Linked DNA regions of Homo sapiens. The protein of the gene in region 1 interacts with the protein of each later gene in a pairwise test. Each region holds a gene or a part of one and is shown in the gene's direction. Other genes may lie near its edges.

Region 1 (4,258 bases):
GAACATATAGATCTATGTCAATCAGCTTAATTCTGCAACATTATTCTTAATTGGCTGCGTAGTATTTCTCTGAATGGAATGGATGTACCATAATTTGACCACTCAATCATTTAGATATTGAGGCTGTTTTTATTTTTTTTTATTTTTTCACTACACAGATATGTTTTTATTTTCATTATAAAAATTATAACAATGTAATGAACTTTCTTGTTGCTAAACTCTTGAATGAGTTTTAAGTGCTTAGTTATTTCCTGGAGATAGATTCCTAGAATTGAAATTTGCTGATTGTATGTAGTATTTTACAGCCCTCTCCCCCAGCCCTAAGCAATGTTGAGTGTTTTAAAAACAAAACTAACCTTAAATTGTTTTTATGATAGGCGGTTTAAAGTATGCTATTTTCTTTTATCAGTGGCCACTTTCTTTTAGGAGCGTAGACTTTAAAAGTTGGATGAAAATAGAATGTTTACATTTTGTTTATATTTTGAAGATGTAAATAAACCAAGGCAGTCTCTGGATGATACCCTTTGTACCTAAAAGCTATTGAGAAAATGTTTTATTTGGATTTGTTAAATGACTCATTTGTGGGGTCCTTTAGTTTGCAGTGGTTTCAGATCAACTTTCTAGGAGATGTGGCACCCATGAGCACCCTGAAATACCTCGGGATAATTCTCTGGTTTTGAGGGTGGCCCGCCTCCTACAGATAAGATTCTTTGTATGGTCGGTTGTGAGGCCATTTAAAACTTTTGCCTTAAGACTTCATAAATCAGAGTTGATACATTGATTGTCCCTTTTGGAGGCTGCAGTTCTTAAAACATGTGGCTGTTTTTCCTAGGAATATTTAAGTACCACTTGATAATAAAGTACTACCTTTTGCTGGGATTATCTACCTGGAAAAAAAAAGGGAACAAAAAATTAAAAATAAAATGTAATATCTGTGGTGTTTTATTTTTTGTTTTGTTTTGCTTTTCCTGCAAATTTATTCTTCCAAAAAAAATGTCCCTTTCAAAATAATCACCCTTTGGCGTGAATTTACGGGTTATTGAAATCAGTCTTAAAAAAATTTCCAGTTAAATTTAACAACTTATCTAACCCATTTAATAATTCAACTTTAAAACAAAAACGAACCTTTGAAAACAAATATTTACTCTTAAGCCAGTTATCCTTATACAAGTTAAAACATTCTCCAATTCCTTCCAGTCTTTGCTTAATAGGACTTTTACATGATTCACACTACACTTTTGATCAAAATTGTTATTACCCAGTTTGATCACACAATTTATTGAGGACACTTGGATTTGGTTTTCAGCTATTTATTAAAATGAAATCCATCCTAAAGTGAACAGGATTTTTACCATTTAGGGGATTCAAAAGTATATTCTTTGAAGGGAATTTCCAAAGAATTCCAGAAATATTTTGAGCCCTAGAAGCATGTATGAATAGATGTGTAGCCTCCCAAGATAACTGGAATCAGAGTGCATTAGACTGCTTGATGGGCTCTCGGCCATGTAGTCCAATGAGTCTCAATTTTTTCCCCTTCCAGCTGCACATAAGAAATATGGCGCACATCCCTCAGTAACAGTATGAGCACATCAGAACCTAGGAGGGTGGTGTTTGGGGCACCCTCTCTCAGGCATTACCCTCCTCTCCCAAGCTGAGAAAAATTACTACCCTGCTCTGTCTTCCAGAGCAGACAGATGGGAAAAGGCAACCAGCAAGGGCTGGTAACCTGTCCAGGGTCATGTGTGAGTGGCAGAACCAAACCTTAAACTTGATCCTCCTACCTCCCTTTGAAGAGAAGCCCCTGCAGTGCTTATGTTCTGGTGCGTATGTTGGGACAAACCAGTCTGGCTACCCTCAGTCATACCCTGAGGAGCTGACCAAACTATGTGGCCATGAGAGAAGGATCTAGAGAAGGTCTAGGCCAGTAGGCTTTCTTGTAAGCTTCAGGAAAATACCCAGATAATGTTATTTTTCCTCCGTTAAGAATCATGGCCTTCTACCCTTTGTTGCAGTTGTGCGAAGATGCCATTTTGAGATGGGAATGCTGCCTTCACCTGAGAGTCTCCATCAAGGAAATTGGCCATTTTCAACTGTAGAGTCAAATCCAGCAATCATGGAGAGAGTAGGGATTAAAAGCCTGCTCGGCTGGGCACAGTGGCTCACGCCTGTAATTCCAGCACTTCAGGAAGCTGAGGCGGGCGGATCATAAGGTCAGGAGTTCAAGACCAGCCTGGCCAACATGGTGAAACCCCATCTCTACAAAAATACAAAAATTAGCCAGGCATGGTGGCGGGCACCTGTAATCCCAGCTACTCATGAGGCTGAGGCAGAAGAATCGCTTGAACCTGGGAGGCGGAGGTTGCAGTGAGCTGAGATCCTGCCATTGCACTCCAGCCTGGGCAACAGAGACTCCGTCTCAACAACAACAACAAAAAATTGCCTGCTAAGCCTAATTCACAGTTTAAGCTAATTTCTTTGCTTGGAGTCTAATAATATCCAAGCAGGTGCATGTTTTCAGTAACATCTCGCCTAGTCATATGTCTGAAAGAACAAAACTGAAAGTTCTTTCCTTAGAGGCCTTTAACCCAAGCCGCTCTTCTCTAGCTCAGTCACAGCCTTCACCAAGAAGTCCTGAAAAGATAGAACTCTTGCATTACCGTGCTGGTTCTGGGTGTTTGCCTTTGCAGAGGCGCCACCTGCCAAGCAGTTCTGGCACCAGGGAGCAGGTCTGTGATGACAGGAGAGAGACAGTGGCTGTGACTCTGGCTCTTAAACCACAATGGAGGGATTCAAGTTAGCTTAGGTAGCTCTCAGAGGAGACTAATGAGGGAAGGAAGGAGCAAGGGGGGAAGGAAGGTGCCCCTGGGAGTGTGTCTCACTTCCCTTGCTGGTTCATCCGAGAAGGCAGGGACCCTGGCTTGCTGATGGTTGCATCCTCTGTGGCATTTAACGTGGCATGCTGGTTATACCCACTGTAGGGGGCACTCAGCAAATATTTATTGAATTCTTCTTTGAGACTCATTAAGACCAATAAAGGGGCTGTATTATATCATCAAGCAAGTGGGTTGTGGATGGGGGTGGGAGGTATTGCTTCAGCTATATTTTATATTCTTTAATGGGATTGCACCAGTTGTGTGTCTTTCTACAGAACTAGAGGAGCTTTCAGGATATTTGCTTGGGTGGACGTGACCCATAGTGTGTAGTGTTCTTTTGGTGGGCTCTTCTTATCAGTAATGAGATTAATTTTTCCATTGCCAAACTCCATGAGGTAAACAGTTTGTGATTATTTCATGTCAGTTTCATTTTTCACTCAGCATGATGTTTCACTGTTAAAAAAATGAACCTTGGCCCAGAGTTGTCCTCTCATGTATTAAACATGACTTCCTTTGTTAGTAGACTAATTTATAATTATAATTCAAAACCATCCCATTCTCCAGTGGATTATTTCCCCCCTCTCTGTCAGATGAAGGAATAATTGTTTGTCTGGGCTGCAGGAGTGTCTGTCATGGAAACCGAATTTTTCTGTACATTCTCTGAACAAACAGTGCTGTCACATCCCTAGAACCTGACATTGTCATTGATCTCCAGTTGAGTCAGAGAAGTTTGTTGACCAAGGTAAATCAGATCTCTCTTCTCTTAAAGCAAATGGCCCATGACTCCTGAGGGGCCACTAGGAGTGAGAGAATCACCTGTACAGGGGGCCACAACTGTGGCTAGGAATGTGTTACTTGAGGCGGTGCTTCCCAGCCATGACTCAGTCACCTGGGGAGCTTTTTAAAAACGCTGTGCTGGGGCCCCATCCTATGTGAATGAAATTGGAATCTCTGGGAGTGGGGGCCGGCATCTTTTCTTTTTTAAAAAAAAAATGTTTAAGGCCAGGCTCAGTGGCTTACACCTGTAATCCCAGCACTTTGGGAGGCCAAGACAAGAGGATCACTTGAAGTCAGGAGTTTGAGACCAGACTGGGCAACAATGAAAGACCCCATCTCTACCAAATAAACCAGCAAAAAATGTTTTAAGGCCCAAGTGACTCTGATGTGCAGCCAGGATGAGGCCTTCAAGTAATTTTTGTACCTTAATCCTGGAAAGAACAAATGCATCTCCAAATTCCCAGTCACGTCACAGAGCACGGGACCAGACTAGACACAGCATTTGGCTCATTTTACAGAGAGGTTAGGATTGATAGAGTCCGCTAGTTAGTGTTAGAACTAGAAATAAAGTTCTAACTTTATTTCTAGTTCTAGGCGTGGTGGCTCAT
Region 2 (4,258 bases), on another chromosome or scaffold:
CACTGTGGACTGGGCACCATGGCTTCCGGTAGGGAGGGGCAAGGGTGGACCAAGGTGGGAGAGCAGTTAGGAGGAGATGGCAAAATGAGGGTTGCTGGAGAAGGAAGGAAAGTGGATGGATTCTAAATGTATTTCAGAAGTGGGCTGGAGGCTGGATGTGGTGGCTCATGCTTGTAATCCCAGCACTTTGGGAAGCCAAAGCAGAAGGATTGCTTGGGCCCAAGAGTTCAAGACCAGCCTGGGCAACATAGAAAGACCCTGTCTCTACAAAAATAAAATAAAAAGTAAAAAAAAAAAAATTAGCTGGGCTTGGTGGCATATGCTTGTAATCCCAGCTGCTTGTCAGGCTGAAGCAGGAGGATGGCTTGAGTCTGGAAGGTTGAGGCTGCTGTGAGCCGAGATCGTGCCACTGCACACCAGCCTGGGCAACAGAGCAAGACCATATCTCAAAAAAAAAAGAAGAGAAAGAAGTGTCCCAGGACTAGCTGTTGGCTTGGATGCAGGAGTGATGGAAGGGGAGATTTCAGAAATTCCGACTTGAGAAACTGGGTGGATATAGTGGGGTGGTTTACTAGGGTGGAGGAAAACGGTGGGGGGAAGGCAGGGTTTGGGAAGGTGTTGATGTGCTGTTGGGTTGGAGATGCTTTCTAATCATCTAAGGGAGGCCATCAGTAGAAAAGTTGGCGCTGATTGGAGAGGCTGGGCTGTACATTGCTTGCTAGGATACGGGACTGGAGTGTCCAAGCAGATCTGGTGGCCCTCAGCAGGGAGCAGGGAACTTCGGAGTTGCCTTGGCCACTCCTTTCATCTCCCCTCCTGCTCTCTCACCCCACCTCCCAGGTCTATACTCGCTATGGGAAGTGTTACACCTTCAACGCGGACCCGCGGAGCTCGCTGCCCAGCCGGGCAGGGGGCATGGGCAGTGGCCTGGAGATCATGCTGGACATCCAGCAGGAGGAGTACCTGCCCATCTGGAGGGAGACAAGTACGCAGGCCGGAAAGGGACAAGGGCCACCTTGGGGACTGGGGCCTGGGCCCTCTGCCTGGGATGGGTTTCCAAAGGTCCCCATCTCTGCTGTGCAGATGAGACGTCGTTTGAGGCAGGTATTCGGGTGCAGATCCACAGCCAGGAGGAGCCGCCCTACATCCACCAGCTGGGGTTCGGGGTGTCCCCAGGCTTCCAGACCTTTGTGTCCTGCCAGGAACAGCGGGTGAGCATCTCCTGCTAGGCCCTGGATTGGGCACAGGGCTCGCCTTTGGGCTCAGAGGGGATGTGGAGCAAACCTGCCCTCTAGAAGCTCAGAGCCTGCCAGCTGTGTTGACTTTGCTGGGGCTGTGGGCACTGGAGGACTGGGTGGGATTCCTGAGCATGACCTCATCATGCCCCACCTCTGCAGCTGACCTACCTGCCCCAGCCCTGGGGCAACTGCCGCGCAGAGAGTGAGCTCAGGGAGCCTGAGCTTCAGGGCTACTCGGCCTACAGTGTGTCTGCCTGCCGGCTGCGCTGTGAAAAGGAGGCCGTGCTTCAGCGCTGCCACTGCCGGATGGTGCACATGCCAGGTGGGCACCCCACCCCCAGCCAGCCCTCCATGCCACCCTGCTAGGCTCCAGAGCCTCCCGGGGCAAGGCACTGCTCATGTGCACAGGCAGGTGCATGTATACAACATGTGTATGTGTCTGTACCCGTGTGAGTGTGAGTGTTTGGGATTTTTAAACATGGTTTCACATATGCATGTGGGAATGCCGGCATGCAGATGCCTGTGTGCATGTTAATATGTATTTGTGTACGTGCATGCTCATTTATATCCGTGGTTGCGTATTTGTGGGGGTTGTGTGTGTGGTGTTCAAGCACATTTATGCAAATGTGTGCATATGTGTGTGCATGCATGTATGTGCTTACATTTGGGCGTGTGGGGGACAGGGGAAGTGATCGTAGATTCCAGGAATAATCTTCTCTCCTTTCAGGCAATGAGACCATCTGCCCACCAAATATCTACATCGAGTGTGCAGACCACACACTGGGTCCGTGCTGCCTACCCTTTCCTACCTCTCCATCAGCCTCTTCATGTCTCTGTCCACTCTTCTCCTCACTGTCTTGGATCCTCCCCTCCCAATCTCTTCCTGGAGGGTTCTTCCTGGGGGTTGAGCCTTAGCCCATACTTCAGTGGGGTTGGGGAGAGGTCTGCGGACCTCTGCAGGTACAGACACTTGGGTAAGTGGAGGCAGCAGGGTGGGGGGTTGCAGAGAAGCCAGGACTGGGAGTGAAGGTCTGGGCTTCTCATCTTGGTTCAGCCAATGAGCTCACCCACTTTGAGAAAGTGAAATGACTTCTCTCTTGGTCTCAGGAAAAATGCATTGCTGGCTATCGGTGTGGGTAAGGCAAACCCCATCTGTCCACAGATCTTGCCTGATCTGCAGTTCATCCATCTATCCATCCATTCATCGATTCGCGCATTCTCCAGACCTTTACAGCCTGTGCTGGGTACTGGAGGTGAGAGTGGGGGCGACAGCCCTGCCCTTGGAGAGCTTACACCCCGGCAGGGCTGTGGACAGCCATTCCCACACAGCCCGTCAACTCCTGGAGAGGGGAGCCTCGGGTGTGCTGCAAGGCCCCAAGGAGGGGTGTGCAGCCCTAGCCTGGGAAGGTAGGGAGGATTCCTAGAGGAAGGGACACATTAGCTGAGGCTTGATGGGTGTATAAGAGTCAGGTGCAAAGGGGGACATACACTGAAGACCTGTGGCCAGAAAGAGCATGCTGTGTCCGGGGCACTGAAAGGTCTGTGTGGCTGCAGGGCAGAGAACAGGGGAGGGAGTAGAAAGAGTAGAGGAGGGAGGCCAGGCACGGTGGCTCACAAGTGTAGACCCAGCACTTTGGGAGGCCAGGGTCTGTGGATCACTTGAGCCCAGTAGTTCAAGACCAGCCTGGGCAACATGGTGAGACCCTGTCTCTGCAAAAAATAAAAAAGTGAACTGGGTGTGGTGGTGCACATCTATAGTCCCACCTATTCGGGAGGCTGAGGCAAGAGGATAGGCTTGAGCCTGGGAGGTTGAGGCTGCGGTGAGCTGGGATCACACCATTGCACTCTAGTCTGAGCTACAGAGTTACCCTGTCTCAAAAAAAAAAAAAAAAAAAAAAAAAAAGAGGAGGGAGGCTCTAGGAAGCCAACAAAGGCCTGTGGCAAGGCAGGAATGCCAGGTGAGTCCAATGAGATAGGAGGGGAGGAGACTCAAAGCCAGGGACTGGCGAAGCTGGCTGCAGTAATCCAGACACCTGGGGCCTTGGGGCTGGGTTTGAGACACTGGGCAGCCACACACATCCAGCCCTTCTCTGTCCCCCACACCACCTGCATCTGTCACAGGGGTGATTGGAGATGTTTAGTGAAGGAACAGATATGTGATCAGGAGTAAGGTGCCTGCAAGGCACAGCGGTAGACCACAGAGCTAGCAACATGGGGAGCCTTCATTCCCACCAGGCCTGCAGGAGGAGAGAGAGACCTGTGGCTGTCCGAGAGGGCTGACTGACAGCAGCATGGCTGGAGGAGCACAGCCTCTGCCACCTACGGCCTGGCAGTGAGAAAGCCAGGCGGGAGAAATACCCTGGCATCTCTTCCCTCTCACCTTCTGTTTCTGCTGGGGCCTCCTGTTGGCCAAACTGAACCCAAAGCCAGAGGACAAGGGAGTTTAGTTGATGCATTTGGGGGAGATCAGCCTCATAGGGTGCAGAGCAAGGTTGAAGAGTGGAGAGTGGATCTGAAGGGGCAGGCAGAGAAAGCCCAGCACATTGATCCTGGGAAGCTTGTCGGTCTATTTGTTCTTCTGTTCGCCCATCCGTCGATCTGGCCATCTGCCATCCATCCATCCATCCATCCATCCATCCATCCATCCATCCATCCATGCATGCATCCCAGCATCCTCTCCACACCTCCTTGTGTGTCTGAGGCCTCACATAGTTGATTAGCTCTGGTGGATGGGCTGTGTTCTCCCTCTGGGCCACGAGGACCCCCCCCCAGTCCCAGGGGGTTGGGAGGGTGCTGGGGGGTTCTGCTTATATCTGCTCTCTGGAGCAGTCTGAAGCTGGTTCAGGCGGGGACCTGCAGCCAGTCCCCTCTAGGAAGCACTGGGGCTGGCCAGTAAAGGCCCTCAGTGTGGGTGTGCCTGCCTCAGGACGGCCCCTGGGCCTCCTCTCTGCAGCTGGTGGGCCACTGGACCACCCTTCTCCAACTCCCACTGTAGCTGCTACCTCTGTGTTGCAGACTCC
Region 3 (4,258 bases), on another chromosome or scaffold:
ATCACTTGAGGTCAGGAGTTTGAGACCAGCCTGGCCAACATGGCGAAACCCCGTCTTTACTAAAAATACAAAAAATAGCCGGGCCTGGTGACATATGCCTGTAATCCCAGCTACTCGAGAGGCTGAGGCAGGAGAATTGCTTGAACCCAGGAGGCAGAGGTTGTAGTGAGCCGAGATCGCGCCATTGCACTCCAGCCTGGGCAACAGAGTGAGACTCAAAAAAAAAAAAAAAAAAAAAGAAGAAGAAGAAAGAAAGAAACTTGCCTCGGGTAAAAGGAGGACTTACTCTAGCAGGGAGTAAGAAAAGCCTACCTGATGAGGTGACATTTAAGCAGAAATTTCAAAAACAAATAGAAGCTAGCCAGCTGGGGTAAGAGATGGGGATGAGTCAGAAAGCAACAAGTACAAGAGCACTGAGACAGAGAGAGCTTTGTATGTTCAAGGAAAAGGGGAAGGCCATAGAAGCTATGGCTGGTGTGCTATGTGGACAGTGCCTCAGGACCAGAGAGACAGCAAAGGACCCAGATTATCAGGAAGACATGGAAGCAATTTGAGGAAAGCAAAGATGTCAGACAGATGCAGAAATCTACCAAGAGATCAGCATTGCCAGCTGGTGTCCTTTCAACATGGGCAAGTGATCATGTATTTGAAGAGTAAAAAAGAAGGTTTTGAGGCCAGGCGCAATGGCCGAGGTGGGCGGATCACGAGGTCAGGAGATCGAGACCATCCCGGCTAACATGGTGAAACCCCGTCTCTACTAAAAATACAAAAAATTAGCCGGGTGTGGTGGTAGGCACCTGTAGTCCCAGCTACTCGGGAGGCTGAGGCAGGAGAATGGCGTGAACCTGGGAGGCGGAGCTTGCAGTGAGCCAGGATTGCGCCACTGCACTCCAGCTTGGGCAACACAGTGAGACTCCGTCTCAAAAAAAAAAAAAAAAAAAAAAAGAAGGTTTTGCTGGGCTGTCTTTTTGGAGGGAGTGATCATGAGTGCTGACAGGTCTGGCACTTTCCTTTCTATTACCCCTGGGGCTCTATGAGTAGAGGGGGCAAAAGAGAGGAATTCAGTTGGATCTTTTTGCTCCAGGACTTCTCAGATAGGCAACCAGAATTAGAAGAAAGACACTACTGGCATAATCAACAAGAAAGAAAACCCTGGTCTAGAACTAATGGGATTTTTAATTTTATTTTTGCATGCTGTCATAGACCTACCTTGTGATAATATGAGTGTTTCAATACTTTTCTCTCCCTGATGTGTGATGACTTAAGTAGAACAGATAAAATTTATATTCTGAAGTAGAAGATAATTGCATTTGATCCACAAAAAATATATAGGTCAGGAAGAATTTAAGTTATATATTCCTATTTTATCATGAAATATATAGAGGAAATATGATGGAAGAAAATCAAAACACATTTGCAAATAAAACTTTGGATGAGTTACCTTTAAAATGTAAGTGAGCTCAAAAAATAGAATATATATGAAAACTTAAGATATGGTATCTTTTCATGAAATCCATTTAGTTCTTGTACCTGAGCTTTAAAATATGTTATCTTTAAAAACAATAGAAATAAAAATTATTCATGAAGTTTGTATTGGATGGTTTACTCAAATTCCTAACACTTTTTCACTTGGGAACATAAATAGGATTTTTAACTCTCAACAGAAAATTTTGTATATTAAACTTAGGAATGAGGAAACTAATTTATAGTTCTATCTGCCTCTGTTAGTTTTATTTTACTTTGGACAAATAACAAATCCAATACCTAGAATAGTGCCTGGCGCAGCATAGATGCTCAGTAAATAACTGTGGAATGAATGAATAGACCAACAAAACCAAAAAGAAGGCAGGGAATAAATTAATTACCAAATATTAAATATCATACTCTACTGGTTCATTGAACATAATGGATCAAAAGGATTAAATAATCTTAGCTATCTTTACAGTTTGAGAAAGTTAAATAATAGTTAAATGAAAGTTAAATGAGTACCCAACACAATAAGAACGTGCTTAATAAATACCAAAATATATGAATATGGGAGAAGGAATCTTTTGTCCCTTGATTGTTATAATCAAGCAGATATATCTTTTCTTTTCTTTTTTTAATTTTTGGAGACAGAGTCTCACTGTGTTGCCCAGGCTGGAGTGCAGTGGTGCAATCTCGGCTCACAAGCAGACATATCTTAAATTAGTCAAATTAATTTGACTGGTAGTCAAAACAGATCTGAAACAGATTACCATTTTAGATAGGAAATAAATTTGCTTTTTCAAAGAAGGACCTTAAAAAAATAAATAAAATGAAATCCATGAGTAGCTAGTGAGAGCATGACTTGCACTTAACTGCTCTGCTTCCAGAATAAAGATGCCCTGATTTTAGCAGGACAGTTCTACCACAGATCAAGCCCCCAAAATGCAAAGTGGGACACTGAAAATTTTCCTTTGACATCAGAATTCCAGGTTACTTACTCTCCAGTCCTTGCCTCTACTCTGGTCTTTCCCAGGCCCTGAGGGGATCCTAATCCAAACTTCCTTTTATTTATTTATTTATTTATTTATTTATTTATTTATTTATTTATTTTGAGATGGAGTCTCGTGCTGTCGCCCAGGCTGGAGTGCAGTGGCGCGATCTCAGTTCACTGCAAGCTCCGCCTCCTGCGTTCACGCCATTCTCCTGCATCAGCCTCCTGAGTAGCTGGGACTACAGGCGCCTGCCACCACACCTGGCTAATTTTTTGTATTTTTAGTAGAGACAGGGTTTCACCGTGTTAGCCGGGATGGTCTCGATCTCCTGACCTCGTGATCCACCCTCTTTGGCCTCCCAAAGTGCTGGGATTACAGGCATGAGGCACTGCGACTGGCCCAATCCAGTCTTCTTTTTGAGCAAGAATGATTTGATAAGGCTAAAGGCATATTCTGACAAAATAAATTTTAGGTACTTATTTTTCCCCCTGGCTAGTGTTGCCACACTACTTTTTTCAATAACAAGAACATCACCACATCTCTAGACTGGTAGTTCTTCAGGAACCTTTTTTTTCACCTACCACGTAGCACAGTGTCTGTTACATAGTAAGCGCTCAACAAATGTTCTGTGAACTAAATTGAAGATGGCCAAGGACACAATTCCACACCTCAATTCTTGATTATTCACAAGTGACTCCGGTACAAATTTTTAATCCAGATTGTTTCCTTGTCATCTAGCCTGCTTCTGAGCCTTCATCCTACTCCTTAAAATCATTGTGTATAGAGCCATAGCAAATAGATTTTAATAATATCCTAAGCAGCAAAGTCTGTCTTTTAAATTTGTTAATCAAAAGGTGTATTTTTATTTTACTAAAGTATAAAATTAATTCCCTTTGCCTGTTGCTGCCTTCTATTAGTATAGATCATAAGACTTTAATATATTAAAAGCATTGTTCTTGAATCAGTGTTATTTTAGGTATGCTTATTGAACGCCAGTCATAAGGGTCCCTTTCTAGGGATTATTTAGAGAACATTTTTTTCTTTTTTTTAATGGGACAACACTTCATTCTATAAAACAGAATAAGTGTTCCAGAAACTATTGTTTAAAAAAGTCATTCTACTGGCCAGGCACGGTGGCTCACACCTTTAATCTCAGCACTTTGGGAGGCCAAGGCGGGTGGATCAAGAGTTCAGGAGTTCGAGACGAGCCTGGCCAATATGGTGAAAATCTGTCTCTACTAAAAATACAAAAATTAGCTGGGCGTGGTGGCACGCGCCTGTAATCTCAGCTACTCTGGAGGCTAAGGCAGGAGAATTGCTTAAACCTGGGGAGGACAGAGGTTGCAGTGAGCCAAGATGGTGCCAGTGCACTTCAACCTGGGTGACAGAGCAAAGACTCCGTCTGGTGGAGGGGGAAAAAAAGCCATTCTACCCTGACTCCTAAAGCTTTATTTGACCCTTCCTGTTAGTCAATGTTAGTTCTTTTCCCATCCCCTCTTTAAAAAAAGAACAGCTTTCACCACCTTTGCGGGATAAAAAAAAAAAAAAAAAAAAAAGAAATGTCCTTGAGGGAATAGGATGTTCTAGTTTAATTTTCACTTGCTTCAGTGGCCTTTCCTATTATTTTTGCTGAATAGAGGGGTGGGTCCTTTGCCTCTTCAACTCACATTTGGCAAAGTAAAAGTAAATTAACATATGAAGGTAATGTTTCTTAAACAGAGCAGTCATACAACACTTCTCTGTAGTAACGTCTTTCTCCTCAGCCTTTTGCTAGTCATCTTTTCTCTCCAACTATCCTT
Region 4 (4,258 bases), on another chromosome or scaffold:
CGATTCTCCCACCTCAGCCTCCCAAATAGCTGGAATTACAGGTGTGCGCCAGCATGCCCAGCTAATTTTTGTATTTTTAGTAGAGATGGGGTTTCACCATGTTGGCCAGGCTGGTCTCCAAATTCTGACCTCAAGTGATCCACCTGCCTCAGCCTCCCAAAGTGCTGGGATTACAGGCATGAGCCACCACACTGGGCCCTGTGTTTCTTTATGGAATACTTTTTGGGGGTTAAAAGGGAAATTGAAAGGAAATTTTAAAGGAAACCCTGCCCATCTATGGTTAAGCCTGTAACAACAACAATAAACACACTAAGAACTTACCATACATCAGGCATAGTTCTGCGTATACTACATATATTAACTCATTTAGTCCTCACAGTGACCAGATAAGTTAGAGACCTTTATTCTCCCCGTTTTACAGATGAGGGAAGTAAAACCAAAATGACCAAGGTCACAAAGCTAGAATATGTGTTTTTAAGCTGGGCTTTGAACCCAGGCCATCTGCCTTTTCTCTTCCACGTCTGCAGTCATGCTTGTAGGAAAGTTGGCTGGGCTTTCAGAAGAAGTTGCGAGTCTCTGACGTCTTCATTTCCCAAATTCAGGCCTTTTCCACTGTGGCAGTGGCAGGAGCTCTTGCTGAGAGCAAGGAAGGGCCAGGGGAGCCAGTCACCCACCGTCCTGCAGGATGGGAGGAGAGCTCACTTACAGTATGCTTGAGCCTCCTAATGGGGAATTTCCTGCCAGTTGAAGAGTGGTGTTTTCCCAAGTTTGTAGTGAACTCTTGGGGTTTGTAGTGTAGTCATGGGGCACATGACTCAGTTCCTACACTGGACTGTGATTGTTTTTAAAAACATGTTTTCCATTTTGCTTAGCATGACAAATGCACCCCACAGTGAACTCACAATTTTCAAAACTTGTCTTTGAGGAATGTAGTCTCTTGGTAGGTGTGTGTTTGTTGGGGAAAGGAGGGTCATATTTCTGTCTCTGGTGTGTCTTTTGTTGGGTTTTCCTTTTTTTTTTTTTTGGAGGCAGGGTCTTGCTCTGTCTGTTGCCCAGGCTGGAGTGCAGTGGCGCTATCTTGGCTCACTGCAAGCTCCGCCTCCCAGGTTCACGCCATTCTCCTGCCTCAGCCTCCCGAGTGGCTGGGACTATAGGTGCCTGCCACTACGCCCAGCTAATTTTTTGTATTTTTAGTGGAGACGAGGTTTCACTGTGTTAGCTAGGATGGTCTCCTCGTGATTCGCCCGCCTTGTCCTCCCAAAGTGCTGGGATTCTAGCCTTGAGCCACCGCGCCCAGCCAGGTTTTCCTTTTTTTTAAAGTTTTCTTCTTTGTGCTTACTTCAGCAGCACCTATACTAAAATTGGAATGATACTGAGATTAGTGTGGCCCCGGCCAAGGATAGCAGGCAAATTTGTGAAGCACTCCATAAAAAAAAGTAAAAAATGTAAAAATGAACTTTCTTCCTTGGTTTTGAAATCTAGCTAAAAGATTAAAATTTTTCCTAAGTTGGCCAGGTGTGGTGACTCACACCTGTAATCCCAGCACTTTGGGAGGCTGAGGTGGGTGGATCACTTGAGGTCAGGAGTTCGAGACCAGCCTGGCCAACATGGTGAAATGCCATCTCCACTAAAAATACAAAATTAGCTGGGTGTGGTGGTGCATGCCTGTAGTTCCAGCTACTTGGGAGGCTGAGGCAGGAGATTCGTTTGAACCCGAGAGGCGGAGGTTGCAGTGAGCCGAGATCACACCACTCCACTCCAGCCTGGGTGACAGAGCAAGACCCTGTCTCAAAAAAAAAAAAAAAAAAGCCCTTTTTTTTTTAAAAAAAAAATTATACTTCTGGTTCAGTGAATCTAGCCTTTTTCTGGATCAAGGATTCCTTTAAAAATCTGATGAACACTTTAAATTCTCTCCCCAAGAAAAACTTGTAATCACACTGCAGTAGTCAGGATAGGCTAAGTTGTGCCACAGGAACAAGCAAGTCCAAAATCCTAGTGACCTAAAAACAGCAGGTTTATTCCTCACTCACACTGTGTGTCCATCGAAGGTTGGATGAGAGTTTTGTTTCCACTTCACCATCCTCTGGGACCCAGACTGATGTGAAATCACCATCTGGGATGTTGCCAGTTGCCAAAACAGAAGGAAGACTAATGGAGGGTCTCATATTAGCAAGACACATTTTGGCCTCTAAGTGACATATATCACATCCAATCTCAATTCATTAGTTAGACTTAGTCCCAAAGCCTCACCCAGTCACAAGGGGGTCAGGAAGTTCAAGCCTACCCACATGCCTAGAAGGAGAAGAAGCAGAAATACTTGGCAAACATGAAAACCAATGCATGAGATTTTCTTTAAAACGGGGAAAACAAAACAAAACAAAACAAAACAAAAACAACCATGTTGGCCAGGTGTGGTGGCTCATACCTGTAATCCTAGCACTTTGGGAGCCAAGGTGGGAGGATTACTTGAAGCCAGGAGTTTGAGAGCAGCCTGGGCAACAAAGTGAGACCACCCCCCTATATCTACAAAAAATTTAAAAATTAGCCAGGTGTGGTGTGCACCTGTAGTCCTAGCTACTAGAGAGGCTAAAGTGGGCTCCTTGAGCCCAGGAGTTGGAGGCTGTAGTGAGTTCTGGTCTCTACTGTACTCCAGCCTGGGTGACAGAGTAATACCTGTCTCAAAAATTTATTTTAATTAAATTTTTTAAAAAATTGTAAAAGCTGTGAAATAGATCATATATATTGCAGTATAAAAGTTAGAAGTTGGTTTACCTTTAGGTAGAGAACTATTGAAAAAATGACTGGTGGCCAGGTAAAAAACTAGTAGAGTTAGATGCTGGCTATCTTTTTTTTTTTTAGAGATGGGATCTCGCTGTGTTACCCAGGCTGACCTCACAAGAAGCAATCCTCTCATCTCAGCCTCCCAAGTAGCTAGGATTTTAGTTGTGAGCCACTGCGCCAAGCAGATGCTGATTACCTAACGGGAGAATGTACTTTTAAAATTTTAAAGTTTGGCCATCTCTGGTATTTCACACCTGTAATCCCAGCACTTTGGGAGGCTGAGGCAGGGGGATTGCTTGAGACCAGAGTTTGTTTGAGACCAGCCTGGGCAACCTTGTGAGACCTCATCTCAACAACAACAACAACAAAATTAGTGGGGTGTGGTGGTGCATGCCCGTAGTCCCAGCTACTCAGGAGGCCAGAGCGGGAGGATCACCTGAGCCCAGGAGATCAAGGCTGCAGTGAGCTGCGTTCACACCACTGCACTCTACCCTGGGTGACAGTGAGACCTTGTCTCTTAAAAATAAGTTAAAAAAAATTGGCCTGGCACGGTGGCTCACACCTGTAATCCCAGCACTTTGGGAGGCTGAGGCGGGCGGATCACTTGAGCTCAGGATTTTGAGACCAGCCTGGCCAACATGGTGAAACCCTGTCTCTACTAAAAATACAAAAAAAAAAAAACCAATTAGATGGGTGTAGTGGCACGCACCTGTAGTTGCAGCTGCTGAGGAGGCTGAGGCACAAGAATCACGTGAGCCTGGGAGGCGGAGGTTGCAGTGAGCTGAGTTCCCTTGCCACTCCAGCCTAAGCGACAGAATGAGACCCTGTCTCAAAAAATAAATAAATAACAATAAAGTAAAAAAAAAAAAAGTTATAAAGTAACACAGAAGTATAATGGACTGTGAGATTACACTGAGAAAGTAAGAGAAGTATAGGTAATACAAAATGGTTGTCAGCCCAGAATAATTTAGACTTGACTCCGAAATACACATGCAGCCAGGTTCTTAAGCAGAGTGTCCACCCCAACAACCCTAGGAGATGTTATCAAACTGCATCTGTAGCCAGTTTCACCTCCATAACTCCTTTCCAGCCTCTCCACCCTTCTGCAAGGGTTCCTCTGCCAGTGTCTACTCTTAAGTCAGCCAGAATTCATAAAGAAAGAAACATAAGTTAAGCAAGTTTGACTAGTGAACCGGGAAAGACCAAAAAGGAGACTGCTAAGTTCACTTTATGGTCTCTGGTTAGGAATGGATTTTCCTGTCTGCTGATGGGTAACAGGGAAAAAAATCCTCTGTCTGTTCTCTTGCTGCAAGGCTGCAGCATGAAGCTTTGGTTGAACAGCGATACCCACTGAAAGCAATTAAGTGCCGTGGAATGGTACTGCCAGCCTGCCGGGGCTGGGGGGCATGTCACTGTCCTGCCCCACTTGGTGGAGGGCAGCTTTGTGAGGAGATTCAATGGGGGCATTCCAGGGGGA
Region 5 (4,258 bases), on another chromosome or scaffold:
TGTAGGTTTCAGCCTCCGTTCTGGGCTTATCTTTGGATTCTTGTTGATGAGTCAAAAAAAAAAAAAAAAAAAAGGAGTGACCATCAGATGTTTGCTAACTCTTCAAGTATGAGCTCAACCTTGTTATCTGCCTGGAGTCATTTCCTTTGAAAATGTATGGTAGACTTTGCCAAAGTAAGTAGTAATGTCCCATTCCTTCTCAGGAAAATGTGTACACATAGATCAAAACTATGCATTGTAAAACTCATATCTGTTTGAAAACATAGAGGTAGGGACAGAAAGTAAACATATGAAGGATTTGACAGGACACATTACCAGCCTGGTGGTCCTTTTTGGAAAATGTTTGCTTTCTCGTAATTGCCTTCAAAATAGGGACAGTGTCCTGAATGTTGGTTACAGTTGTTGAAGATTTCTTTTTGAGATTATGCTTGGATGATGGGGCCTTAAGAAGAGAACCCACCCAGTCCTATTTTGTGCCTTCGTTTGGACATGTTCTCCCTTTTCTTCCAAGGTACTATACACTTAATTAGTATTGGGTCTAGTAGGACTGAGATTTTGTTTTCCTTTTTTTTCCCTAGGGTTCTCAGAAGCGAGCTATCTCTACCCCAGAAACCCCCCTAACAAAAAGGAGTGTGTCAACTCGTAGCCCCCATCAGCTACTCTCACCGTCAAGTTTCTCTCCAAGGTATGGATCATAATTCATTCAAGTGCCATAAAGCTGGCCTCCCCTCCCCTTTCTCTGGCTATCTGAGGAAGGCTAACAGCAGAGTTATTAATTAACTATAGGTGGGCATGTACCTCTGCAGTGAATTGGCTTGAAAGCCTATTGCTCTCTGCCTTCCTTGCTCTCCTTTTCTTTGTGGAAAATTACTGTTTCTTACGGTAATTAAGGAAACTCACTTTCCACCCACTTTTCTAGGGCTCATTTCCTAGATCGGGAACTGATATCTTGTATTGAAAACAACCTGTCTATTCAGAAGTCTAAGAGTCTTAACAGGTCTTGTCAGTAGAGGCAAGTAGGTTTCCACCTGCTTCTGTTTGTGTTTTGTTGGGTTTCTTTTTCTTTCTTTTCATCTAAAGTTTTTTTTTTTAAAGAAAAGCACATATCTTTGTTCATAATGTTTCATAACCTGTTTATTGTTTCCAAGTCAGGTTAGAACTAGTTTCTGAGAGTTTTCTTGTCACTGTGACTCTGCCCTGACTTAATTGGTATTTTGTCCCTCTGCCACCATTGCACATAAATCCACAAAGATCATATGTAATTTTTTGAAATCCATAAATGACACGTCTCATATTAGAGAATTCCATAGGCAAGTGCTCTGCTGAGTAGATGGGTTTTTAGGAGTTTCCACATCAAGATGAGGCTCCGGAGCAGTAGTATTAACCCTTCAGGGAAACACCAACTGCCAGGAGTCATTACCTCTACTTTGGATCACTTCTAGATGAACCAGAGCTTAAGATTGTTCAACTCTATCACTTTTTTTTTTTTTTTTTTTGAGATGGACTCTCACTCTGTCACCCAGGCTGGAGTGCAGTGGCACCATCTTGGCTTACTGAAGCCTCTGCCTCCCGGTTCAAGCGATTCTCCTGCCTCAGCTTCCCGAGTAGCTGGGTCTACAGGCGCTCGCCACCATGCCTGGCTAATTTTTGTATTTTTAGTAGAGACGAGGTTTCGCCTGTTGGCCAGGCTGATCTTGCACTCCTGACCTCAGGTGATCCACCCGCCTTGGCCTCCCAAAGTGTAGGATGTCAAGCATGTGCCACTGCTCTCGGCCTTTTCAGCTCTATCACTTTAGAAAGGTGGTGATAGAAGCTCTGCAGTCATTCAAGGTGAGTGGTCATTGGATTTTTTTTTTCTTTTCTTTCTTTTTTTTTTTTTTTTAAGATAGGCTTTTACTCTGTTGCCCAGGCTGGAGTGCAGTGGCACAACTATAGCTCACTGTAGCCTTGGCCTTCCAGGCTCAGGTGATCCTCCTACCTCAGCCTCCTGAGTAGCTGGGACTACAGGTGTATGCTACCAAGCCCAGCTAATTTTTATAATTTTTGTAGAGATGGGGTTTTACCATGTTGCTCAAGCTGGTCTCGAACTCCTGGCCTCAAGCAATCTGCCTGCCTTAGCCTCCCAAAGTACTGGGATTACAGGCATGAGCCAGCATGCCTGGCAGTAATTGGATTTTGAAGGACAGTTTTACTTTAGGGTAGTCTACTGCTGCTTTGGGGAGTTCTCAGGCTTTTTGGAAGAAAGCTTTCTAGACTTAAGAGCATCTTTGCAACCTGGTATGTAGGGATGGTTCTTATAGACGTGCCAGCACCATTGCAGGAGTTATATTCTCCAAATGTCAATACAATGCTCTGAAACCTGTAGATCTGTTTACAACTGTCCTCATGTGAGCATCTTGCTGCATTAAAGGGCCTGCTGTAATGGATGGCTCATGGAGCTTCCCAGGGAAGAGCTTGGAGAAGCTGGCAAAATGCTGCCTAGTCATTTTTTAATGCACACTAATAAAGCTGACAGCAGAAACTGGTTTTGTAATGTATGAAAGTAACTTCTAAACTATTCACGTAGAGGTGGCACTGGAGATTGAGATAATTAATTGAGCTCATTTTCTGTAGGCTGTGAAAAGAAAGAATGATGGCATTAATTGCGATGGTGCCCCACATAAAACTGGTTCCCGCAGAGTTTCAGTGCATTAAACAAAGCCTGTTTTAAATAGACCTCTCTGTACGGCGTGTTTACAACCAGAGGATTAGAAGACCTCACTGTCATCTAAGCAGATCAGCAATATCCATGTGTTCTTAGAGGTATAATTTACCAGTCAGGGAGTGGAAATGTGAGAACTTGGCAGTTGAGCCTAGAAAAATGGGAATGTTTGCACATCACCAGACTGTTAATTCATTACTTACCCACCTCCATAGACACTGGGGAAAATTGATTAATTTGAATTTCATTTTATTGTTGTTTCTACCTTGAACCATATTGTGAGTTTTTATATATGCTCAGCAAGTTTTAGCTTATCCACAGTTGCAGGCTCAGATGATGTTCCAATAAATGCTAAAAATTCATGAGAAGAAAAAAATGGGACTTAAAGTTTGCCTTTTAATCAATTCAGAATCTGGGGATCTTTTTGCCTTGCTTAGTTTTAATGCCAAGAGAACGACAACTTTTTAAAATACGTTTCTGTCTCTAAACTTCTCTAAAAATGTTTGGTATTCCTCAGCCTGGTATTCCTCAGCCCTTCATTCCTGAAATTCCTTAAAGGTCTGGGTATGTCCAACCCCATTAAACTGATTCAATTTATAAACTATGAGGCCACCTTCCTTTTCTCCAGTCCCCATTTCCAAAGGTAACCTCATTTTATTCTTCTCTCCCTTTAGATATGAACACAGTAATATTAACCTGTTTTGCTTCCAATTAGTGCTACTCCCTCCCAGAAATACAACTCACGAAGTAACCGAGGAGAAGTGGTTACCTCCTTCGGCTTAGCACAGGGAGTATCTTGGTCTGGGAGAGGAGGAGCTGGAAACATCAGCCTGAAGGTCTTGGGATGTCCAGAGGCACTAACTGGGAGCTACAAATCCATGTTTCAGAAGCTCCCAGACATTCGAGAAGGTGATTGTTTTTCCCTTTGAAATTCTGGTGGATATAAAACCACCTAGAAGGGTGTAGAGTAACAAAGCTTCAGCTAGGCTGGTAGAACAAGTTCCAAGGTTGCCTTTCAATGTATGAGTTGGTAGATGTCCTCATGGAAGCCCTAGTAATGGAGGGACACGGGCAATACTATCAGTGATTGCCCCAAGTCACTTCACTTTGCTAAAACGCACATAACCATTCCCAGCAGCAAAAACTTGAACGATGTAAAGGAATTCAACTTAAAGATATTCATGGTTCCTTCGTTAGAAGCCTTCTTCAGGTTGGCCTTGACTTGCCTAAAACCTCAGTGAGGACTTGAGTAAAGGGCAGACTTGGAGATGGGGTGGGGTTCATGCTGATTCCCTGGAATTGTGCTATGGGGTCTCCTGTGGCCAGATGGAAGGCCAGATTCAGCAACCAAATATCGGAAAATTGGCAAAGGTTTTAGAAGGTTTAAACTGGCCAGATGTCCAGGCACCCTTCCTGCTTCTGTAAAATGACTGACTTTAATATTTTACAATGTGCTGTATTTTCTCTTCTTGGCAAGTGAAATGTCTTAAACATAATACTTTTTTCCACTTCTGGGATTGTAGTTCTGACCTGTAAGATAGAAGAACTTGGCAGCGA
Region 6 (4,258 bases), on another chromosome or scaffold:
GATGGGGTTTCACCATGTTGGCAGGCTGGTCTCGAATTCCTGACCTCAGGTGATCCACCCACCTTAGCCTTCCAAAGTGCTGGGATTACAAGCGTGAGCCACCACGGCTGGCCTATACTTTCTAATAAAGTAAGATTTTTTTTTTTTTTTTTTTGAGGTGGAGTCTCGCTCTGTTGCTCAGGCTGGAGTGCAGTGGTGTGATCTCTGTTCAGTGCAAACTTCATCTCCCAGGTTCAAGTGGATCTTCTGCCTCAGCCTCCTGAGTAGCTGGGATTACAGGGGCCCGCCACCACACCTGGTTAATTTTTGTATTTTTAGTAGAGACAAGGTTTCACCATGTTGGTCAGTCTGGTCTCAAACTCCTGACCTCAGGTGATCCACTCACCTTGGCCTCCCAAAGTGCTGGGATTACAGGTGTGTGCCACTGTGCCTGGCTAAAGTAAGATTAAAAAAAAAAAATCAAAAGCCAGTTTTACATTTTTGTTTCCCTTCACGATTGAATGGCTTGATCTGAGACTGAGGAAATCCAGGCACGCTTCCATTTCGGCATTTCAAGTGTGTAGAACATTGCAGTGTTGAAATATGTAGAACATGTCATTCCTGGGCCTGGGATGGTGTCTCCTTGTTGGAAGGACAGTTCTTTCCCTCAACACTGCACTTTATGTATGGAAGGGGTGTGTAGTTTGTCAGGTCTGAGCTTGGGCCTGGCCAGGCATGCAGCTGGTGTTTAGTCTGCAGTGGACTTATCTTCACATGCATCTGTCATGTTTGGCCTTAGGTGCAGAAAAGCCCTGTGTTCCGGAGGGACGGCGCAGACATCCACTCCGACCTCTTTATTTCTATAGCTCAGGCTCTTCTTGGGGGTACAGCCAGAGCCCAGGGCCTGTACGAGACGATCAACGTGACGGTAAGAGGGTGTGAGAACACCTTTGTCACCCCTGTACTTTATTGCTCTTTTTCTGAAATGGAAAAGAACTGACCAGTGGCCTGGAACCCATGAGTGACCAGCATGTGGGGGGGCACTCACAGGGGAGGACATGAGGAATTTTAGGCTGCTCCTTGAGTGTGGACCACAAGCCACAGGCCTTGAGTCTATAATCGCATGGGAAGCAGTTCCTGGCTGGCATCACTCCCACACTGGTTAGCGGGGCCTGGGAACTGGGCGCATTCAGGACACAGAAGGGTTCACCCTGGGTTGTGCTCTCTGCACTTGCTTCTGTCCAGTGTCTGGCTCCAAGAGCAGAAGACTCGGGCGGTGCATATCCCTTTTGCCACAGTGATGGCTGCCTGTGTGCTGCCAGCACCTGTCCCCCACCTCTCTCTTGACCTGCCCCTCCAGCTCTTCCCACCTCCAGGCCACATCATTCTCTGTATTCGCCTCAGAACCTTCTCCAGCTTCTTTGTGGGGAACCTTGGGGTAACCTCCATGAAGGAGGTGGGCATTTTGGGCCAAGGCTTTCTCCTCCATCTGGGGGCTATTCCCTGGCTTCTCCAGGGTCCTGTGGTTCCAAGGGCCAGGGAGCGACCTCAGCCACGCACCCTGTATTGGCTTTTCCTGCTTTGCTCCCTCACTCCTGCTTCCTGGGCTCACTTGCCCAAACTCTTGCCCCCTCATCCTAGTCACAGGCTCTGCTCTGGGCAGACCCAACTTAGCTCATTTCCATGTGCTTGTGGGCGGGCTTGGCCCAGAAACCCAAGTGGTGGTTCTTTTTTTTTTTTTGAGATGGAGTCTCGCTTTGTCGTCAGGTGCACGCCACCACACCTGGCTAATTTTTTGTATTTTAGTAGAGACAGGGTTTCACCGTATTTCCCAGGCTGGTCTTCAACTCCTGATCTCAGGCAGTTCACCCGCCTCGGCCTCCCAAAGTGCTGGGATTAAAAGGCGTGAGCCACTGCGCCCAGCCCAGTGGCAGTTCTTTTTTTTTTTTTTTTTTTTTTTTGAGACAGAGTCTTGCTCTGTCGCCAGGCTGGAGTGCAGTAGCGCGATCTTGGCTCGTGGCAATCTCCGCCTCCCAGGTTCAAGCGATTCCCACCTCAGCCTCCTGAGTACCTGGGCCTACAAGCACGCGCCACCATGCCTGGCTAATTTTTTGTATTTTAGTAGCGATGGGGTTTCACCATGTTGGCCAGGAAGGTCTCAATCACCTGACCTCGTGATCTGCCTGCCTCAGCCCCCCAAAGTGCTGGGATTACAGGCATGAGCCACTGCGCCCGGCCTTTTTTTTTACCCACCCCCTCCACCACCGCTCTGCCGAGACAGAGTCTTGCTCTGTCAGCCAGAGCTGGAGTGCAATGGCACAATCTTGGCTCACTGCAACCTCCGCCTCCCGGGTTCAAGCAATTCTCCTACCTCAGCCTCCTGAGTAGCTGAGATTACAGGTGCACGTTACCATGCCCTGCTGATTTTTGTATTTTTAGTAGAGACGGGGTTTCATCATGTTGGCCAGGCAGGTCTTGAACTCCTGACCTCGTGATCAGCCTGCCTCGACCTCCCAAAGTGATGGGAGCGTGAGCCAGTGGTAGTTCTTTTCAAGGAATTCCTATCAAGATTGTCTTCATGTAGTGAAAACTTTTTATTTGAGCAACTGGGGACCAGGGGAAACCACAGATTTTCTTTCTTTATAGATCCCCCCTGGGACTCAGACAGACCAGAAGATTCGGATGGGTGGGAAAGGCATCCCCCGGATTAACAGCTACGGCTACGGAGACCACTACATCCACATCAAGATACGAGTTCCAAAGTAAGTGCCCCCTAGGCTGTGGCCAAGCCCGCCTGGTCCTGCGGTGGCACTGCCCTTGGAGCTCTGTGGCTTGGGCAGGTTACTGCTCCCTGTAAGTCAGGTGGTTCCTGCCCGAGTTATCTGTCTGTAAAGTGGACATAGTAGAATGGTCAACTTCTTTTTTTTTGAGATGGAGTCTCGCTGTGTCCCCCAGGCTGGAGTGCAGTGGCGCCATCTCGGCTCACTGCAACCTCCGCTTCCCAGGTTCAAGCGATTCTCCTGCCTCAGCCTCCCGAGTAGCTGGGATTACAGGTGCCTGCCACCATGCCCGGCTAATTTTTTGTATTTTTAGTAGAGATGGGGTTTCACCGTGTTAGCCAGAGTGGCCTCAATCTCCTGACCTAGTGATCCACCCACCTTGGCCTCCCAAAGTGTTGGGATTACAGGCGTGAGCCACCATGCCCGGCCAGAATGGTCGACTTCTTGGAGTTGTTGGGAGAATTAAATGAACAACACATAGGAATTGCTTTGCTGCTGCTGCTATTGTTGATTTTCTTCTTTTTTTTTTGAGAAGGAATCTGTCACTGTGTTGCCCAGGCTGGAATGTGGTGGTGCCATTTCAGCTCACTGCAACCTCCTCCTCCCCAGTTCAAATGATTCTCCTGCCTCAGCCTCCCGAGTAGCTGGGACTACAGGCGCTTACCACCACGCCCAGCTAATTTTTGTATTTTTAGTAGAGACGGAGTTTCACTGGCCAGGCTAATCTCGAACTCCTGACCTCAGGTGATCTGCCCACCTTGACTTCCCAAAGTGGTGGGATTACAGGTGTGAGCCAGCACGCCTGGCCCGTTGCTTTTCTTGTTGATGTTACTAGCACTGTTAGGAGCTGGAGAGGTGGCCTGGGCAGAGTGCTGTGGGTACCTAGGGCGGGACATGCCTGACTCCCCTCGGGAGCACTCATGCTTTTTGTTAATTAGATAATTTCTTTTTTTTTTTTTGAGATGGTGTCTAGCTCTGTCTCTAGGTGGAGTTCAGTGGTGCAATCTCCACCTCCCAGATTTAAGCAATTCTCCTGCCTCAGCCTCCCAAGTAGCTGGGACTATAGGCATGTGCCGCCACGCCCAGCTAATTTTTGTATTTTCAGTAGAGACGGGGTTTCACCTTGTTGGCCAGGATGGTCTCTATCTCCTGACCTTGTGATCCGCCCACCTTGGCCTCCCAAAATGCTGGGATTACAGGCATGAGCCACTGCGCCTGGCCTAATTAGATAATTTCTTACTTGCTTCACATACACACTGGTAAAATCTGTTTCCCCTCCTGTAAACTGTATTTAGCATAGCCACAGTGACACTTGTTTAAATGACTTAGTGTAGGGTGTTTTAGGAGCTTTTCTGTACAGAAGCTTTGAGGGCATGGTCCTTAGGTTCTCACCGCTGCACTGGCTCAGGGTGTCCGCCCCTGCCAAGGTTGGGTCCCTCTCTTCCCATGTGCTGCGAGGGTGCTGGCTGCCTGTGAGTTCTTTCCAAAGCTTCCCGGCG
Region 7 (4,258 bases), on another chromosome or scaffold:
GGCCCTTTAAATATGTGCAAACCATTTTAACTGTATCTTAAATTATGCTTGTTTGAGCAAAAACTTTGAGATTTCAAACCCGTTTTAAAAACTTTTTTAATGTAATTGTGCATTCCCATGCAGTTTTAAGTAATAATAGAGAGATTCCTTCTACTCTATCCATTTCCCCCAATGGTAACATCCTGTATTATTATGGTATAATATTACAACCAGGAAATTGATATTGATGCAATCTACAGCATTTAGTCAGATTTCACCCATTTTATATGTACTTCTATTTTTTTTATTTTACTAAGTGTGTATTTAGTTTTATGCAGCTTTATCATATGTGTAGATTTCAGAGAGTACCTCCACAGTCAAGATACGGAACAATTCCATCCCAAGGATCCTCAGTACTTCTTTATTGCAATCATGGACACCTAATCTATAACAACTGCCTAATCCATAATCCCCTCACCCAAATCCATAACAACCATGAATCTGTTCTCCATTATCATTTTGCCATTTTAATACTGTTGTATAAATGGAATCACATAGTATGTAACCTGTTGAGATTGGCTTCTTGCACTCAGCATGTCTCTGGATCTTCATTCAGGCTGTTGCATGTATCCATAGTTTGTTCCTTTTTATTGCTGAGTTGTATTCCATTGTATGGATATACCACAGTTTGTATAACCATTCACCTGTTGGGGACATCTAGGTTGTTTCCAACTTTTGGCTGGGATAAAGCTGCTATAAAAATTCACTTACAGGTTTTTATGTAAACATAGATTTTTATTTCTCTGTTCTAAATGCCCAGGAGTCCAATTGCTGGGCCATATGGTGGCTGCATGTTCATATGCTTTATATGAAGCTGCCATACTGTTTTCCAGATGTTCCTAGCCGCAGTGTCTGAGTAATCCAGTTTCTGTGCATTTCTGCCAGCACTTTGTATTGTTGCTGTTTTTTACTGTAGCCATTTTGATAGGTATGTAGTGATATCACACCTATATATGTACCTCATTAATTTACCATTCCCTAATGGGTGAAGCTATTGAACATCTGATATTAAACCAAAGAGTTTGGTAAATGTGCCTTTGTGTCTTTTGTCCATTTTTAAGTGTTTTTTTTAAATGTTGAGTATTGAAGTTCTTTATATATTCTAGATACATGTACTTTGTCAAGTATGTGATTGGTAAATATTTTCTCCCACTCTGTAGCTTGTCTTTTTGTCCTCCTCACAGGACCTTTCTCAGTGCAATACTCCAAACATATTTTTTATTAAAATGTAAGTTGATTTTTGATTCATTGAATGTATCTTACGCATACTGAGAGCTAGAAATTTCCTTAAGAATAAATGTAATTTATAGATGCATAATACTTTTTGCTATAAAGGTGGTTGCTTGTATACTAATAAATAATAAAAGTGCTTGCTTAGGTAGTAAAGATACTAATTATGTATTTTTTCAAGTAAGAAATGAACTAAAATTTGAAATGAGGAAATGGGTTGCAGACCATCTACTTCTACCAGTTTTGAGGGGATGGGACAGTGGAATATGAAAGCAGCTTACCAAGATGTGGTGGCTTTGCACTATGTCACTTTAGCTAAGTTGGGACTATGTTTCTTGGAATTGCCTTTGCAAGATGATCTGGGTTAGGGCTGACCATAAGAAAAATTTCTGCAAGATTTGGAAGGTGAAAGTGAAGTGGCTAAGATCACATTCAGAATGTTGGCATAGGTTTTGTTGCTGCCAGGCCTCTTGCAGTTTGTCACAGAAATGTTGGTGAACATGCTGTTGGTTTGCAGCAGCACCCAGGCCCTCAGCTCCTCCAGTGCTCTCCAGATCTCGTCTTTCAGCTACTTGGAATCATGGTGCAGGTGTGTATGCAGCTCTGCAGGGAAGAGTGCCAGTCTTTTTGCAAGCCTCTTGCATTGTTAAAGTTGGAGCCTTAAAGGCAGTGGAAAACAGACATGTATTTTAGCTCATCCTTGTGGGTTCCATTTTGCCTTTGCTTCCCCCTACTTCAAGTCCATTCACCCTCTCTTCCAGAATGGCCCTGCTGCCCTGCTGGCTTTCAACTTGGATAATAGACACAGAAGCATCACACTTACATAGGCTATTTAACCAGCCCCAGCAATAGTAAAAGGTCAGATCCCCATAGTACATCCCTTCTTCTGAATCACTCATGGTGGCTCTGGTTTTCTAGTCTAACCCTAACTGATACAAATGACCATCTCTTTGTGTTCCTTGAAGTGAATTTAGAATTACAATGAATTTCTGTTTCCAGTCAAATCTCAGATTCAGTCTTTTCATAAGATCATGCCCAAGGGCATGCAAGAATATTTTTGGACCATAGTGGTACAGAATCAAAACATCTGTGACTCTGCAGCAATAACATTTTTTTTTTGCTTCTTTTTCCTTCCCTGGCCATGACCTGTTTGTAAGCCTGAAATCAAGAGAAATGCATTAAGCTACTCTGTAGAGGGTGAATTGACACAGAACCAAACTCTATGATGTCCATAACCCCTCCCTTGAAAAATGGTCCAGAATGGTTTAAAATAAACTTAGCTTTTTAATTTTATCCCAACCCTTCTCTTGGGAAGAAGATACTGCTGAATTGTTCGCAGTGCCATTCCATTCAGTAAGCAGGTGGAAGTCTGCTTCAACAAGCAAGAACCAATGATTTTTTAATGTTAAAGATGGGGAAACTAAGCAAATGAAAGGACTTTAAAATCCTGATTCTTTCTCTGTGTGTTTAGCCTATTAGATTATATTTGCTATAATGCTTTATTTTATTAAGAGCTTCTGATGGTAATATAAACCATAAGAGTGAAAGTGGGTGGTTTAAAATGTCAGAGCCAAAAAATAGACTATCTTAATATGTGCAGCTGTAGGAATTTACAGCATTTTAATGTTTGATCTTGAAGGTTTTTTGCAGTAGTTTGCATCTTTTAGTTACAAATAGTATGCCAACCATGAAAATAAGCACTAGCTAACCTCCATGCCCACAACCTTAAAGAAACGGTGATATGTTTCTTTTGTTTCTATTCCTTTTCATTCAACTTCTGTGGGATTTCATTTTGACACAGCCTGTTGCCACAAGGCTGATAAGTTTGTTTTCTAAGTCTATCATAGGACACAAGTGAAGATTCTCTAGGATGTTTGACTAGATTGTCTAGGATGTTCAGTGACAGAAATAACCAAGGGAAAATGTGATTGGAGGCAAGAAAAATTTTATAAAGAAAAATGAAAAACTGCCTTTGAAAATTTTATGCCACCCTAAGGTTATCTTGGAAGCTCCAAGAGGTGGAGGTTGTGATTATAATCTAGTAGGATATACTTTATAGACTACAGTCTGGTAGTGTAGGAGGGACAGAAAGTGAGAGGAATATATTTTTGGACTCATGAGGGTTTTTATAGGTGAGTCCCTGAATCAAGGCTTGGAAATCACCTTCCGAAGCAGTCTATTATTACCAACCAATGTCTTTTCTGTCTTTCTTTGGAGCTACATTCATATTTTTCCTAACTTTGAGTATGTCATCATCTCACTTAAAGAGAGGGGTAAGGAGGTCGGGCACGGTGGCTCATGCCCTGTAATTCCAGCACTTTGGGAGACTGAGGCGGGCGGATCACTAAGTCAAGAGATCAAACCCATCCTGGCCAACATGGTGAAACCCCATCTCTACTAAAAATACAAAAATTAGCTGGGCATGGTGGTGTGCACCTGTAGTCCCAGCTGCTCGGGAGGCTGAGGCAGGAGAATTGCTCGAACCTGGGAGGCAGAGGTTTCAGTGAGCCGAGATTGCACCACCGCACTCCAGCCTGGCAACAGAGCGAGACTCTGTTAAAAAAAATAAAAAGAGAGAGAGGGGGGTAAGGAATGCCTGATCATGCCCACACAATGGCAGTGTTTCTTTCCCAAATAATAAGATACTGTTTCTTTTCTATGAAGTCCTGTTTGATCTGACCCCTGGCTACCTCTCTGATCCCTAGTCTACCAATCTCCACCTCATTCTCTGCACCAGCATTCCAGAGCCCTTGTTCTTTGCACAGGCCAAACCCACTGCTACCAAAGGCCTTGCATGTATTGGTGGTTCCTCCTGAATGCTTTTCCCCAGATCTGTGCAGGGCTTATGTGCTCACCACCTTTGGTTTCTGCCTAAATGTCACTTCATCCCGGAGGCCTTCCCTGGTGGCCAGGTGATCAAAGTAGCAAACACTCCTCTGTGTTTTTTTACCCTTATTTCCTTACCCTGCTTTGTTGAGTTTTACCTCCC

The links.
Region 2: the proteins of ERN1 (region 1) and ASIC4 interact in binary tests that used the Homo sapiens proteins (3 or more experiments, as listed by UniProt).
Region 3: the proteins of ERN1 (region 1) and TAOK3 interact in binary tests that used the Homo sapiens proteins (3 or more experiments, as listed by UniProt).
Region 4: the proteins of ERN1 (region 1) and WBP1L interact in binary tests that used the Homo sapiens proteins (3 or more experiments, as listed by UniProt).
Region 5: the proteins of ERN1 (region 1) and POLA2 interact in binary tests that used the Homo sapiens proteins (3 or more experiments, as listed by UniProt).
Region 6: the proteins of ERN1 (region 1) and DNAJA3 interact in binary tests that used the Homo sapiens proteins (3 or more experiments, as listed by UniProt).
Region 7: the proteins of ERN1 (region 1) and TMTC1 interact in binary tests that used the Homo sapiens proteins (3 or more experiments, as listed by UniProt).

The regions. Positions count from the first base shown.
Region 1 is NC_000017.11:64,119,672-64,123,929, reverse strand, and holds part of ERN1 (serine/threonine-protein kinase/endoribonuclease IRE1 precursor), read left to right. Parts: intron 1-4,258. UniProt on the Homo sapiens protein: Serine/threonine-protein kinase and endoribonuclease that acts as a key sensor for the endoplasmic reticulum unfolded protein response (UPR).
Region 2 is NC_000002.12:219,530,918-219,535,175, forward strand, and holds part of ASIC4 (acid-sensing ion channel 4), read left to right. Parts: intron 1-840; coding exon 841-985; intron 986-1,083; coding exon 1,084-1,211; coding exon of another isoform or gene 1,212-1,229; exon of another isoform or gene 1,230-1,397; coding exon 1,398-1,560; exon of another isoform or gene 1,561-1,965; coding exon 1,966-2,022; exon of another isoform or gene 2,023-2,345; coding exon of another isoform or gene 2,346-2,662; exon of another isoform or gene 2,663-4,253; coding exon 4,254-4,258. UniProt on the Homo sapiens protein: Does not exhibit measurable stand-alone pH-gated sodium channel activity but may form pH-gated heterotrimeric sodium channels. Its activity could also depend on alternative gating mechanisms.
Region 3 is NC_000012.12:118,194,370-118,198,627, reverse strand, and holds part of TAOK3 (serine/threonine-protein kinase TAO3), read left to right. Parts: intron 1-4,258. UniProt on the Homo sapiens protein: Serine/threonine-protein kinase that acts as a regulator of the p38/MAPK14 stress-activated MAPK cascade and of the MAPK8/JNK cascade.
Region 4 is NC_000010.11:102,802,598-102,806,855, forward strand, and holds part of WBP1L (WW domain binding protein 1-like isoform 1 precursor), read left to right. Parts: intron 1-4,258.
Region 5 is NC_000011.10:65,275,314-65,279,571, forward strand, and holds part of POLA2 (DNA polymerase alpha subunit B), read left to right. Parts: intron 1-578; coding exon 579-685; intron 686-3,416; coding exon 3,417-3,610; intron 3,611-4,224; coding exon 4,225-4,258. UniProt on the Homo sapiens protein: Accessory subunit of the DNA polymerase alpha complex (also known as the alpha DNA polymerase-primase complex) which plays an essential role in the initiation of DNA synthesis.
Region 6 is NC_000016.10:4,446,108-4,450,365, forward strand, and holds part of DNAJA3 (dnaJ homolog subfamily A member 3, mitochondrial), read left to right. Parts: intron 1-778; coding exon 779-907; intron 908-2,625; coding exon 2,626-2,741; intron 2,742-4,258. UniProt on the Homo sapiens protein: Modulates apoptotic signal transduction or effector structures within the mitochondrial matrix. Affect cytochrome C release from the mitochondria and caspase 3 activation, but not caspase 8 activation.
Region 7 is NC_000012.12:29,776,685-29,780,942, reverse strand, and holds part of TMTC1 (protein O-mannosyl-transferase TMTC1), read left to right. Parts: intron 1-4,258. UniProt on the Homo sapiens protein: Transfers mannosyl residues to the hydroxyl group of serine or threonine residues.